Linked DNA regions of Homo sapiens. The protein of the gene in region 2 interacts with the protein of the main gene of each other region in a pairwise test. Each region holds a gene or a part of one and is shown on either strand. Other genes may lie near its edges.

Evidence for each region. Proteins that work in one complex are often made in the same cells at the same time.
Region 1: the proteins of FMO4 (region 2) and RHBDD2 interact in binary tests that used the Homo sapiens proteins (3 or more experiments, as listed by UniProt).

The regions. Positions count from the first base shown.
Region 1 is NC_000007.14:75,882,034-75,889,070, reverse strand, and holds the end of RHBDD2 (rhomboid domain-containing protein 2), read right to left. Parts: coding exon 6,835-7,037; intron 5,374-6,834; coding exon 5,223-5,373; intron 1,080-5,222; coding exon 722-1,079; 3' UTR 145-721; downstream 1-144.
Region 2 is NC_000001.11:171,309,957-171,317,183, reverse strand, and holds the start of FMO4 (dimethylaniline monooxygenase [N-oxide-forming] 4), read right to left. Parts: upstream 3,002-7,227; 5' UTR 2,771-3,001; intron 999-2,770; 5' UTR 857-998; intron 1-856. UniProt on the Homo sapiens protein: This protein is involved in the oxidative metabolism of a variety of xenobiotics such as drugs and pesticides.

The DNA of each region.
Region 1 (7,037 bases), on a different chromosome or scaffold from region 2:
TGACCCACTGGGCCCTGGTCACCTGCCTGACCTGGCCCTGGTGCATCTCTCCTCTCTGCCGCCACACCACACATTGCCACTGCCCAGATCTCAGCGCACTCCCTCTTCCCCAGCCAGACCACAAAGGAAGCACACGCCAGCACGGCAGGTCAGAGGCTGTTTCTTTATACAAAGGCAGACAACATGGACACCTCAGCATGCTGCTGCAGTTCATGGGGGCCCATCCCACCGCTTCTGGGGAGAGGAATCGGGGTGGGGGCGCCCGCAGCAGGGGAGAGACACTACACAGGCCTGGGACCGCCAAGCACACCAGCTGCGAGCTCCTGAAGGGCAGACACATGGACACACGGACACTGAAACCACGAGCACGGCACAGCCACAGGGAGGAATGGTGGAGCTGGGGACAGACATCGGCAGCTACTGCCAACTGCTGCCCTCTTCTGCCACGAGTTCCTTGGCGAGGAGCCTTGTCCGTGTTACTAAAGAGCCACGTGACTTTATCTGATGGCAGAACGTCTCGCTTTCTGCATCTGTAAGCTGGGCCAGTACACCGTACTCCACAGGGCTGCCGTGAGTACAGATGAGACTGAAACAGGGGCATTGATCAAAGTACCCAACACAGAGCCTGGCACATAGAGGTGTTCAATAAGTAACTTTTGTCAGGAGACTCTTAGGGAGGACCTTCAGAAGGCCAAGTGAGATGACTTCCCTAGAAATTCTCTCAGGGCATGGGGACCCTGGAGGACTCCTTGGAGCCTGCAGCCCCTGGTGTGCCCAAGGCCCCAGAATACACCGTGCCAGGGCTGTTCACAGGCGTGGGGGGCTGGATGCCCAGGGAGGTGCCCGCAGAAGCTGGGTAGACACTGGAGGAGGTGGGGTTTGGACCAAAGTGGTTCTGCACATAGCACAGGCCGGAGGCAGGCTGGTACGGAGGCAAGGTGGGCATGTGCCCGGGGGTGCAGGAGGGCCAGGAGGCCAGCTTCTGACCACTGGCGTGCTGCGTCTGGGACACAGGGTGGCTTGGGGACAGGTGAGGGTGGCAGCTCTGTGTGGGGTAGGAGCCAGGCACCGGGTTCAGTCTGGAATGGAACAAGAGAGAAAATGGTCCTTCAGCGAGTCTTGGCAAGGTCATGGCATCTTGTGCTTGAGGTTGCCCCCGCTTTCTAGTACAACATGCCTTGGATGTTTTCTGTGACTTGCTCTAAGTACCAAGTGGGAGAAAGGTTAACCTCAACCAATCAGACCACAGATGCCCAGGGAGGGTGGGGCCAGTTGCAGTCCTGCAGCAAGGGAGTTGTATGAAAGGACACTGGACCTGCCACTGAGACCACCGGAGGGGTGACCTGCTCACAGCAGCTTCTAAACCAGATGGAGCGTTGGGACCAGGTCACAGCTGCCAGTGCCTGTGTGGCTGGCTCGACAATTCTGCCCAAAGAGAACGGATTCAGGCTGGGCATGGTGGCTCACACCTGCAATCCCAGCACTTTGGGAGGCCAAGGCGGGTGGATCATCTGAGGTCAGGAGTTCGAGACTAGCCTGGCCAACATGATGAAACCCGGTCTCTACTAAAAATTAAAAAAAAAAAATTAGCCAGGTGTGGTGGCAGGCGCCTGTAGTCCCAGCTACTCAGAAGGCTGAGGCAGGAGAATCGCTTGAACCTGGGAGGCAGAGGTTGCAGTGAGCCAAGATTGTGCCACTGCACTCCAGCCTGGGTGACAGAGCAAGACTCTGTCTCAAAAAAAAAAATTGTTTTTTTTTTTTTTTAATTAGCCAGGTCTGGTGGCATATGCTTCTAGTCCCAGGTACTTAAGAGGCTGAGGTAGGAGGACTGCTTAAACCCAGAAGTTTGAGGCTGCAGTGAGTTATGACTGTGCCACTGCACTCCAGCCTAGGCAACAGAGCAAGACCATGTGTAAAAAAAAAAAAAAAAAAAAAATTATCTATCAACAAGAGCCTCTGAGGAGACAAGCTGTCCAAACGGCCATCTTGCTGACAAAATAAACATGCGTGTCATGACATGGCCCTGGACCCACTGTCAGGCTGCCTGAAACACAATATTCTGAGTGTCTGCAGCAGGCACCAGACCTGAGGGACTGGACTCCATGTCACGTGGGGAACACAGAAGGAACACCATCTTCCTCTTAAACCCTAAGATCTGCCTGTCACAGTGAGGCAGGATCAGACCTGGCACTGGGTGTGGCAGTGTCTGTGAGGCTGATTGCAATTCAGCATGGAAGAACTCTTTTTTTTTTTTTTTGAGACGGAGTCTCGCTCTTTTGCCCAGGCTGGAGTGCAGTGGCGCGATCTCGGCTCACTGCAAGCTCCACCTCCCAGGTTCACACCATTCTCCTGGCTCAGCCTCCCGAGTAGCTGGGACTACAGGTGCCCACCACCGCACATGGCCAATTTTTTGTATTTTTAGTAGAGATGGGGTTTCACCGTGTTAGCCAGGATGGTCTCGATCTCCTGATCTCGTGATCCACCCGCATCAGCCTCCCAAAGTGCTGGGATTACAGGTGTGAGCCACCGCGCCCGGCCCTTCAGCATGGAAGAACTTTCTCATCAGGGCCAGTCTTGGAGAGTGAGCTCTTGTATGTGAGATACAGCTGGAGACCACCATCAGCTATTACAGAGGGGATTCCTTGGTGACAGACAGTTCTCCAGATTCAATGAGAACAACTAAAACCCACAAAACACCTAGTCCTAAATGTACAGTCTCCCCCACATTGAGACCCCAGGAATTACTTGCCTGAAGCAATAATGCGGTGAGTCCGCATTTCTGTTTTCCCAGCAGCCCTCCTGGCCTTTTAGAAAAATAGTCCAAGGGCTCTGAGCTGTTGACAGCTGGGAGCACCTCTTGGAAGAAGCTCTAAGGGCAGCTTCCTATTCAACAAAAACCCCACATCCAGGCCAGCGTGCAGGGGAAAATTTACTCCACAGCTGGTGGCGGGCCAAAAAGGGCCAAGGACCAAGCACCTTGCCTTCTGATACACTTTGGATGTTTCCTCTGCTCCAAATCATGTGCTGAAATGGATCTTTAGCCGGGTATAGTGGCACGCGCCTATAATTCCAAGTACTTGGGAGGCTGAGACAGGAGAATCACTTGAACCCAGGAGGTGGAGGTTGCAGTGAGCTGAGATCACGCCACTGCACTCCAGCCTGGGCCACAGAGTGAGACTCCATTTCAAAAAAAAAGAAACGTGATTCCCAGTGTTCCAGCACTAGAGGTGGAGCTCAGTGGGAGGCGTCTGGGTCACGGGGGCAGACCTTGCGTGAGTGGCTTGGCTTCTTCCCCGTAGTAATGAGTTCTCCCTCTGAGTTTAGGTAAGAGCTGGGTGTTTAAGAGCCCAGCACCTCCCTCCCTCTCTCAATGTGTGGTGCCGCCTCCCCTTGCCCTATGATTGGAAGCTGCCTGAGGCCGGTGCCATGATCCTAGTGTAGCCTACGAAGCCATGAGCCAAATAAACCTCTTTTCTTATAAATGACCCAGGCTCAGGTATTTCTTTATAGCAATACAAAATGGATGAACACGCCTTTCCCAGCGAGCTCCTTTTTTGGGGGGAGGACCACTGAAGGAAAGAAAAAATCCTACACTGTGAGGTCTCAGCATGGACAGAAACCAGCGGAGAACTCAGAGGCAGGAGGCACTGGGAACAGGGGAGAGGGAGGGAGGTGGCCTCCTAAGCAGGGGACGTGCTTCCAGATGGCCCCTCTCCTGACTCTGTTACCTGGAAACAGAGTGGGTGAGAAAGACCCTTGTCTTCTTTGGGCCTCCTCTATAAAATGAAGCAGCCAGGCCACACAAGCTCTGGCGGCTTACCAGCACTTTCCATCTGTGAGTTAATCAGCCAACTGGAAAACAGTAAACCTCACCAGAAAACCTGGGCTGGGCCACCTCCTAAGCAGCCTAGTTGGCTGTGTGGACTGTCTGCACCTTTTTTTTTTTTTTTTTCTTGGGAGACAGTGTCTTGCTCTGTCAACCAGGCTGGAGTGCTGTGGTGTGATCTCGGTGCACTGCAACCTCCACCTCCCAGGTTCGAGTGATTCTCCTGCCTCAGCCTCCTGAGTAGCTGGGATTACAGGCAACCACCACCACGCTTGGATAATTTTTGTATTTTTAGCAGAGATGGGGTTTCATCACGTTGGCCAGGCTCGTCTCAAATTCCTGACCTTATATGATCTGCCCACCTTGGCCTCCCAAAGTGCTGGGATTACAGGCGTGAGCCATCGCACCCAGCCCTATCTGCACTTATCGAGGCTATTGTGTGTCACAGCCCAGGCTGACCTGCAGCAGGTATGTGTCTAATGTCAATTAGATGGGGGCCCTCCTGCCCAGCCTATCTACAAGTCACTCAGGATCACATGTTAAGTGTCCTCAAATGCCTTCCCTTTCCTGCTGTTGCTACTTCAGAAGCAGTTGTGCAGAATCCAGAATGCTCAGAAGACATCTGTGCATTATTTTCCAATCTGCCGCACCTCATTTCTTTATCACTTACGGCAATAAACCAGCCACACCCTCTGCATGCCCTGGAGTTGCTTTAATAATAAGGTTAGGCCAGGCTCAGTGGCTCACACCTGTAATCCCAGTACTTTGAGAAATCAAGGAAGGATGGATTGAGACCAGGAGTTTGAGACCAGCCTTGGTAACACAGTGGAGACCCTGTCCCTACAAAAAATTTAAGTTAGCTAGGCATGATGGTATGTGCCTGTAGTCTCAGTTACTTGGGAGGCTGAGGTGGGAGGATCACTTGAGTCCACGAGTGTGAGGCTGTAGCGGGCTATGATCATACCACTGCAATCCAGCCTGGGCAACAGGGCAAGACCCTGTCCTCAAATAAAAAAAAGAATAAAAAAACAGAATAAGATTTGACAGCATTTGGCCGGGGGCAGTGGCTCACGCCTGTAATCCCAGCACTTTGGGAGGCCGAGGCAGGTAAATCACAAGGTCAGGAGTTCGAGACCAGCCTGGCCAACATGGTGAAACCCCATCTCTACTAAAAATACAAAAAAATTAGCTGGATGTAGTGGTGGGCACCTGTAATCCCAGACACTGAGGAGACTGAGGCAGAAGAATCACTTGAACCTGAAGCAGAGGTTGCAGTGAGCCGAGATTGTGCCACTGCACTACAGCCTGGGTGACAGAGTGAGACTCCGTCTCAAAAAAAAAAAATAATTTTTTTTTTAAAAAAGATTTAACAGCACTTAAGAGTTCTGTCACTTACTTCCGGCTCTGGGCTGCCCTCCTCTCGGCTGAAGACCCTGAGACGTACTTGAACACGGATATCCTCCTCATCAGGCTGAAGGGGAAGGTCTGATCGAGCTTCAGTGCCACTCGCTCTGAGAGGTCGATGGAATAGCAGTAGGTGAGGCCATCTGAGGTTGGCGTGTTAAGTGAAACTGGAGGCAGCAAAGGGAGGAGGGCCGAACACTCCCCGGGGAGAACACAGGTTCCCACTCACTCTACAGAAGCCTTCATGCTTAGCACGCTGCACACTCTGGCTGGAGTTTGCAGCTCAGGGGAAACCCAGAGCCAAAGGTTTGTTTTTTTTTTTGAGATGGAGTCTCACTCTAGCAGCCCAGGCTGGAGTGCAGTGGTGTGATCTTGGCTCACTGCAAGCTCCGCCTCCCAGATCACACCATTCTCCTGCCTCAGCCTCCAGAGTAGCTGGGACTACAGGTGCCCGTCACCACACCCAGCTAATTTTTGTATTTTCAGTAGAGACAGTGTTTCACCATATTGGCTAGGCTGGTCTTAAACTCCTGACCTCGTGATCTGCCTGCCTCAGCCTCCCAAAGTGCTAGTATTACAGGCGTGAGCCACTGCGCCTGACCCCAGAGCCAAAGGTTTCTACTCACTGTGCCTCACCGGGAATGAATGCGCCCAGCAGCAGGGGGTATTAATGCTGTCCCTTCTCCTACACCCATGTGTGCCACCACTTGCACCCTTCTAGCCACTGCAGTCAGTCAGAAGCCAGGACATGCCTCTGCTGGTGTAGCAGGATAAGGCAGGAGGCTGTACCAGTATCATCCTGAGGGACTAACACCTCGTCCTTTTATCTCAAATAGAGGGCACCTGCCTCAGTGCGACCATGTGAGCTTCATGTGGGCCTCTCTGGCTGTGCTTCCTCCATACCCTGTCACCATCCCCAGCAACTTGGTGGTATCCTGGTCGTCTGACCTAAGTCACCCACCACTGATTAGGCAGCCACAAAGATTCAGCCTTTGAATAAAGGCTATGCTAGACTCTCCCGAAAAGAGCTTAGAAACAAACCTCAAGTTTCAAGCCAATCTTCAAGTAAGTTAACCGCCTATCAGAACAAAAGTCAACATTTTTTAAAGGAAAACAACAAAATCTAGAGCCCCTAATACAGCATTCAGTGTCTAGCATAAAATAAAAAATTACCAGATATGAAAAAAAAAGTAAAAAAAAATTATGATCAGATATGACTCGGCCACGGTGGCTCACACCTGTAATCCTAGCACTTTGGGAGGCCACGGTGGGTAGATCACCTGAGACCAGGAGTTCAAGACCAGCCTGGGCAACATGGTGAAACCCTGTGTCTACTAAAAAGAAAATATAAAAATTAGCCGGGTGTAGTGGTGCACACCTGTAGTCCCAGCTACTCAGGGGGCTGAGGCAGGATTGCTTGAGCCCAGGAGGCAGAGGTTGCAGTGAGTTGAGATCCTGCCACTGCACTCCAGCCTGGGTGACAGAGACTCTGTTTCGAAAAAATACAAAGTAAGCCCAATTTTATCTACTTGACACCCCAGACCCTCCAGCCTGGTTCACCCTTTGACATGCGTTGTTCTATAGCTCTCTGCTAGGAAGGATACAGGCCAGCCCGATGGACAGCCCGCAGACATTACTGAGGAAAGAGGTCTGGGGAATGAGCCACGAGGCACCCAGCAGGAGCCACGGAACCAGGACTGAGGGCACAACCATGCCAAACACCAGGGCCCGCCTCATCCGAGAACGGACGGTGGTGACTCCCAGCATGGCAAAGGCCACTGGGGTGAAACCTCTGGCATCCTCCACT
Region 2 (7,227 bases):
GCATAATCATTTGAAACAACTTAAGACTACACTGCTATTAAGAGGCAGAGTTTGCACTGAGTATGGATTTCAGGATCTGAAACCAAGATGTGAACATGCTGTTGGTCTGAGAGCCTGAGGTATCCTGTGGTTCCCGTCACTAAGCCTCTTCCTTCATCTTTGCTCAGGTTTGCTGCTGCACCTTTGGGATGGGCTTGGAGTTTTTCTCTATGGCTCTGTAGCTTGTCTCTTAATCAGATCAGAAGCCCCAGGCACAAAATCTAAGAGAATTTACTGACTGGAGGGAGTAAAGAAAGACTCCTGAGTCCTCCAGGAACCCTTAGACTTACCTGACCCTAAGGCAGATTCATGAACTTGCAATGAGGATCAGAAGGATTTCCTAGGGCTGCCAATTTCTGAATGTATTTGCTGCCTTGCCTTTGTAAGGCTGAGATTGCCATACCTGGCTTCATTATGTATTAAAAAATGCATCATTTTTCCTCTTAGACTTTTTATTTGGGAGTCCCTATTTAGTTGAGAGAGCTATATGGAATGCAATGAAAATGGATTTTGGAGGCAGCAGAGTTGGGTTTGAACTTTCTCTGCTACCAACTAGCCATATGACCCTGAGCAACCGACTGAAGCAACCTTAGATATATTATTTGTAAAATAATAAAAATATCTATGTTGAAGGATTGTTTGCATTTTAAAAAACTTGATATTACTTACACAAAAAAGTGCCTTGCACAAAATATTTACTCAGTGTTCATTCTCTACCTCCCTACTTGTCTCCTGTCTTCCTTCTCTTCTCCTTGGAAAAGACAGTTCATACAGATAAAATGTATCAACAAGTTTGGAAAGGAGTAGGCAGACATACCTGTGTTTTCCTTTGAGTTGAGGAGTAGGAGGTTTAGACAGCTTCTAATCAGAAACAAATGGCCTCCACCAATAAGAATACTTGAATTTCCAGGCCACTAGGTAGAGGCCTGGGGCTGGCAGATCTTTGCTGTGCTCTATCTCTGCAATCATAAGGTAAAAAGAAATGACTGCTAACTGAATTGCCAAAGTGAAAAATATACTGACGTGAATAGACTGGAAGCAAATTAATTCATTCAACAAATATGCCCTGGGTACCTCTAAGTGCAGGTCCTAAGCTAAGTATGGGGCCCTGAAGATAATGAAGACCCTGCAACTAAGAAATAGTAGTAAAGTCTTAGAATTTAAAAAAGACCGTGACTGCTCTTAAGATGTTGTATATGGAGAGGCTGATACTACCTTGTGCTAAGTCCTATGGTAGCAGCATGCTCTAGGCATGAATGCTTGCACTCTCCTGGCCTGTTTATTATCCCTGTCTAGAGACCTAGTTAGTGACACAGAGTGGCCTGTGGGGTTAAAAACGTGCTGGGCAAAAGCACTTTAAGGACTGACTTAGAGACTCTACAGGCAGTAGAAACAAATTGGGAATTAGCACCTTTTAAAATTAATCCGTATTTACAGACTATAAATTTCTGAATGGGAGCAACCTTTTTAAATTTTGCCTTGAGTCAGTAGAGGAAGGTAGTGAGTGAACTGGAAATTGAGAGATCTGAGTTCTAGTTCTGCTTCTGCCTCTAAGCAGCTTGTAACCCTGGACACAATTCTCAATTTCTCTGAGCCAGTGCTTCCACATTTGTAAAACAGAGGGTTCAAGTGGCTTTCTCTTTGTTTCCTTCAAGCTTGAAAGGACTGTTCTTATGTCTGAAAACCAAGTAATTGGTGCACAAAAAAAAAAAGATATGAATTCAAAGGTAGGCGAGAATACTGCAGGCTTGAAGGATTGGGAGAACGTGTGTGCAAACTCTGCAAACTATAAAGTGGACTTCATAAGGTACTTGGTTGCTCAAAGGTGCTTATATTTATTTATTTATTTATTTGAGTTGGAGTCTCACTCTGTCTTCCAGGCTGGAATGCAGTGGCACAATTTCGGCTCACTGCAACCTCCACCTCCTGGGTTCAAGTGATTCTCCTGCCTCAGCCTCCTGAGTAGCTGAGACTACAGGCAGGCGGCACCACGCCTGGATAATTTTTGTATTTTTAGTAGAGACGGGGTTTCACCATGTTGGTCAGGCTGGTCTCAAACTCCTGATCTCAAGTGGTCTGCCCTCCTCGGCTTTCCAAAGTGCTGGGATTACAGGCGTGAGCCACCGTGCCAGCCATAGGTTGCTTATATTTAGTCCCTTGGCAGAAAGGAGACCTGACCTATTGAACTAGACCTTTGTACAACGGGAAAACCCCACCCTATACCTGACTGACCAGCAAATGTAGGAATCCTTTATGAGACATGGAGAGACTTGGGTGATTTGCAAATCATGTAATCAATTATGATTTCTTTGAATTTGAAATTTGATCATTTTATGTTTCTTATCATCATCCTACCATGCTCTTGCTTTGTTACAGTATTTTTTTCCCACGCCATCTATGGGGTATTTGTTTCCCAATGGCTGGCATTTCCATCTCATTCATAAGATGAAATCAGAGGTCACTGGAGTCACTGAAAGTCTCATGATTCTGTTTATCTCACTGACACTTTCCTTTTGGATGGTTCTGTCCACAACATAACTTTGTTTCCTTACAACTTCCCTTTGCTTCCTGACTCTCTCCTTAATTCTCTTGCTTTAGCCCTAGTCAAGAGACCCCAAAAGAAGATAATCACATTCATTCTTAAGGAACACACTCCAAGAAAAACATTCATCTTTTGTGAAAGCAGTTTCTGGATCATTTCCCCATTAAAAAAAAAATCCAGGACACTTACCTTGGTTAGCATAGAGCAGATTCTTTGACTTAAATTATTTCTCAAAGTCAAGGAAAGTGTTTGTCTTTTTTTTTTAAAAAAGCTCAAAACCCAAATTCTTTTTTCTGAAAGAAAAATAAATGGAAAGATGACTTTTGTAAAAGTGCCCTCAGTTTAAAACAAAAGCCATTCGTCTTTTCTGTTATGCTAGTGACAGCAGAAAGTATACAGACTAAGGAAAAAAAGTTGTGTAAGAGGCAAGCGTGATACTTCCGTGATCTTAAGGGAGGGCGGAATGGTGAGTTAGAATACAGCTGTTGGATTGGCAGAACATAAACGCTTCCTGCCCCTTTACCCCACCCTCCTCAACGTCATAGTTCTGGCAAAGCCCTAAAGCTATGGGAAGCACATGATAGCGTCGCTTTTGCCATTATAGTCTGTAGAGGGCGCCAAATCACCCCAAATTACAGCTTTCTCAGCGAAACAGGAGTTCTACTTTTGGAAACAAACTTCTACACCCTGACTCTTGCTTGGATTACCATAGGAGCTGTCCAAAGGAGAAAGTTATTTAGATGACCATTACCTCATCAAGTTCTTTCATGCTTGGAGTTCTCCAACCCCAGAAATGTGATTTTAAAGTTCAGGACTTACAAGGAATTTAAGCTGTTTTGTCCTTCAGATTGGATCAGCAGAGGGAGCTGGTGAAATGTGTTTGAGAAAGCATAAAGCTATTTTTAGATATTAACCTAGGGCACAAGAAAGGTAATAATTATAGAAGCTGTGGCAGAAATAGAAAACTTAACTGTTTTTCCTTCCACTGTGTGCTTGTAAGATAATATAACAGACCATCTTTAGGACTTGTGTTTAGGGACATTTTCCAACATGGTTCACTGAACAATTTCTAAACCACATTTGCTTGTGACTACACATGCAAATGCCTACAGGAGTGAGGAGGGTAACATACACGAGGAAAGTGGGCCAGATATGATCTGACTGGAAAGTACTTTCTCTGTCTATTCAGTTCAGCTAAATGTTGCTATTTGAGAAAATGAGCCCAATATGGCAAGGCCTTAGGTTCTTTTCAGTAAAAGCTGCAAATACAGATTTTAATATAAAATCTTCTGTTGGCAGCAAATATTTTCTTTTGAAAAATATCATGGAATATTATGCAGCCATAAAAAGAAATAAGATCATGTCCTTTGCAGGGACATGGATGAAGCTGGAAGCCATCATCCTCAGCAAACTAACACAGGAACAGAAAACCAAACACTGCATGTTCTCACTCATAAGTGGGAGTTGAACAATGAGAACACATGGACACAGAGAGGGGAATGTTGTAGGGCCTGTTGTAGGGTAGGGGGTGAGGAGAGGGAACTTAGAGGAGAACAGGTCAATAGGTGCAGCAAATCACCATGGCACACGTGTACCTATGCAACAAACCTGCACGTTCTGCACATGCATCCCACTTTTTTTTAGAAGAAATAAAGAAAAAAATTTAAAAAAAGAAAAAAAAATATTGTGTCCAGAGTTAGTTCCTTCCGGTGGGTTCCTGGTCTCCCTGACTTCAAGAATGGAGCTGCGGACCTTTGTGGTGAGTGTTACAGTTCTTAAAAGATGGCACAGACCCAAAGAGTGAGCAGCAGCAAGATTTATTGTGAAGAGCGAAAGAACAAAGCTTCCACAGAGTGGAAGGGGACCCGAGCCAGTTGCTGCCGCTGGCTGGGGTGGCCAGCTTTCTCTTATTTGTCCCCTCCCATGTCCTGTTTCTGTCTTATCAGAATGCCCTTTTCTCAATTCTCCCCACGATTGGTTACTTTTAGAATCCTGCTGATTGATCCATTTTACAGAGCGCTGATTGGTCCATTTTACAGAGCACTGATTGGTCCATTTTACAGAGAACTGATTGGTGCATTTTACAAACTTCTTGCTAGCTACAGAGCACTGATTGGTGCATTTTACAATCCTCTTGTAAGACAGAAAAGTTCTCCAAGTCTCTACTCGACCCAGGAAGTCCAGCTGGCTTCACCTCTCAATACCCCCTTTAAACAGGACACCCCAACTGCTTTTGAGAATTGCGCAATGACTGCTCTAGCTACTTCCTGCTGGATAGGGGTGAAGAAGAGACCCTGAATTGTAGTATCCTCCAGAGGGAAACTCTCTAGGTATCAAAGGGCCAGTGGGTCGATCCAGGGGGTCCTTGGTAGAAGTTGTTAGTTGAGCTCATTTGGGGTTTAATTTGCAAAACCATCTGTAGCTTGATGGCCTCGATCCTGGAGGAAACAAATTGACAAAGAGCTTAAAAATACAGGGCCCGAAGGCAAGTAATAGCAAGATGGTTGTCATGAGACCTAGAAAGGGGAGAAGCCATGTTGCCCAACTCCAGAGAATGGTATAAGAATTTGAAAGGCATTGTCTGATTTCAGAAGACTTTTCCTGTAAATGCCGGGTGGCGTCTCATATTAACCCTGACTGGTTAGTGTAAAAGCAACACTCGTCCCCTAAGAAGGTGCAAAGTCCTCCTTTCTCAGCAGTGAGGAGGTTAGGCCTCAGTGGTTTTAGAGAGTCACTGCTGCCAAAGAGTCTATTTGGGATTGTAGAGTAAGGATAGATTTTGTTCTTTCTTGCAAACTGCCTGAGAAATGCTTTGAGAGTGTGTGGTAGTAGGATAATGAAGTGGATAAATCTGCTATTCCGGTTCCTGTAGCAGTGGCCATTCCTAACCCTATAAGTAGGGGTATTAGTTGTATGGCCCTGTGCTGATGGACTTGTGCTTTGAGGAGCACTGATAGGGTCTGGGCAATGTTTATATTGGGACTTAGGAAGACTAAGGTGCAGGTGCCTGTCCAGTTGGTGGGGAGGCAGATATAGGTTGACATTCCATGTAAGAAGAATACGTCTTGGCTGGGTAGACAGAACTGGTTGTGTACGTTAAAAAGGTGTGTGAGTTTGTTGTTTTCATTTTCCCATACTCCTAGAGTACGTGCCAAGGTGGCTCCGGTGAGTGGCTGGAAAGGGGTGTTGGGAGCAAACTGAGTGGCTCCCTGTGCTCTATCTTCCCATTGGGGGAAAAAGCCGTTTTGTATCTACTAGGAACCATTCAATAGATTAATTGAAAGAGGGGATGAGGAGGCATTCACTAGTGGTGGGGGCACTGCTGCAGGGGGTCCAGGGGTGAATGGTCATGCAGGGAGTATGTTTGCTATTAAAAAACCCAGACTGTTTGTTAAGCAGGGAGGAGGTGATGATTTTTGGAGGCTCTGAGAAGTGGACAAGCCATCTGAGTGGAGCTGTTTGGGTGACTCGGAAGTTACTATAATCAGTTCGGGCTTGAAGTTGTAGGATGTAATTACACTGATGGGATAATAGGTCCCCCAGGGGCAGGCCTGATAACGGGTTGTGTTGGATGCATAGAGGGGCTTGGAAAGTTAAGATGGTATTCATGGTTATAGGGATTTGCCTTCTCAACCTTCCCTAAGGATTGTGGCCTCCAGGCGCAGTGGAGGTAATATGATATCCCTAGCACCCTGGAAATTCCCTGTTACCGTGGCTTTAAAAGCCAGACCATTGTCACTTTGTAAGCTTTGGGGAAGCCCAAATCTAGGAATTATTTCATGCATTAGGACTTTAACCACTTCCTGAGCCTTCTCTGTCTTGCAGGGGAAGGCTTCTATCCAATTTGTAAAGGTTTCAACACAGACCAACAAGTGTTGAAATCCCTTAGACTTAGGCATATGGGTGAAGTCTAACTGCCAGTCCTCTCTGGGATTGTGCCCTATTCTTTGTTCCCCCAGAGGGGCCTTATGATGGACCAAGGGATTATTCCTTTGGCACACCTCACAGGCTTTGACTACTTGTTGGATGGTCCAGAGGAGATTTGGACCCGTAAATAGAGATTTAGCCATTTGATGAGTGTTCTCAATACCCATATGAAAAGTTTGGTGGAGGGTCTTAAGTATTTTCCACTGTCTGGCTTCAGGTATGAGTACCTTTCCCTCTTCCGTAGTGAACCACCCTGAGGGGAGAAAACTATGCCCCCGTGAAAGTCCCCATTCTGTTTAAGTTGGGAAATACTGGGGCTTAATCTCTTGGAGAGGGTTGTTCCATACCAGTGGCCCTTCTACAGGTATTTCTAATGGTAGGTTCCACCTGGCAGCAATTTTGGCCTCAGCATCTGCCCGACAGTTTCCTTCTGCCTTTTCTCCTTCACCTTTTTGATGGCTTTGGCAGTGTAAGACTGCCATCTCCTTAGGTTTTTGCACCACATGCAATAACTTAATGATTTCCTTGTGGTATTTAATGGGGGTTCACCCAGAGGTTATGAACTCCCTTTCTTCCCACATTGCAGCATGGGCATGTAGGATTAGATAAGCATATTTGCTATTTGTATACACATTTATTCTTTTTCCCTTTCCCAGTTCTAAGGCTTGGGTAAGTGCCACTAGTTCTGCTAACAGTGCTGGTCCCTGGAGGAAGATGCT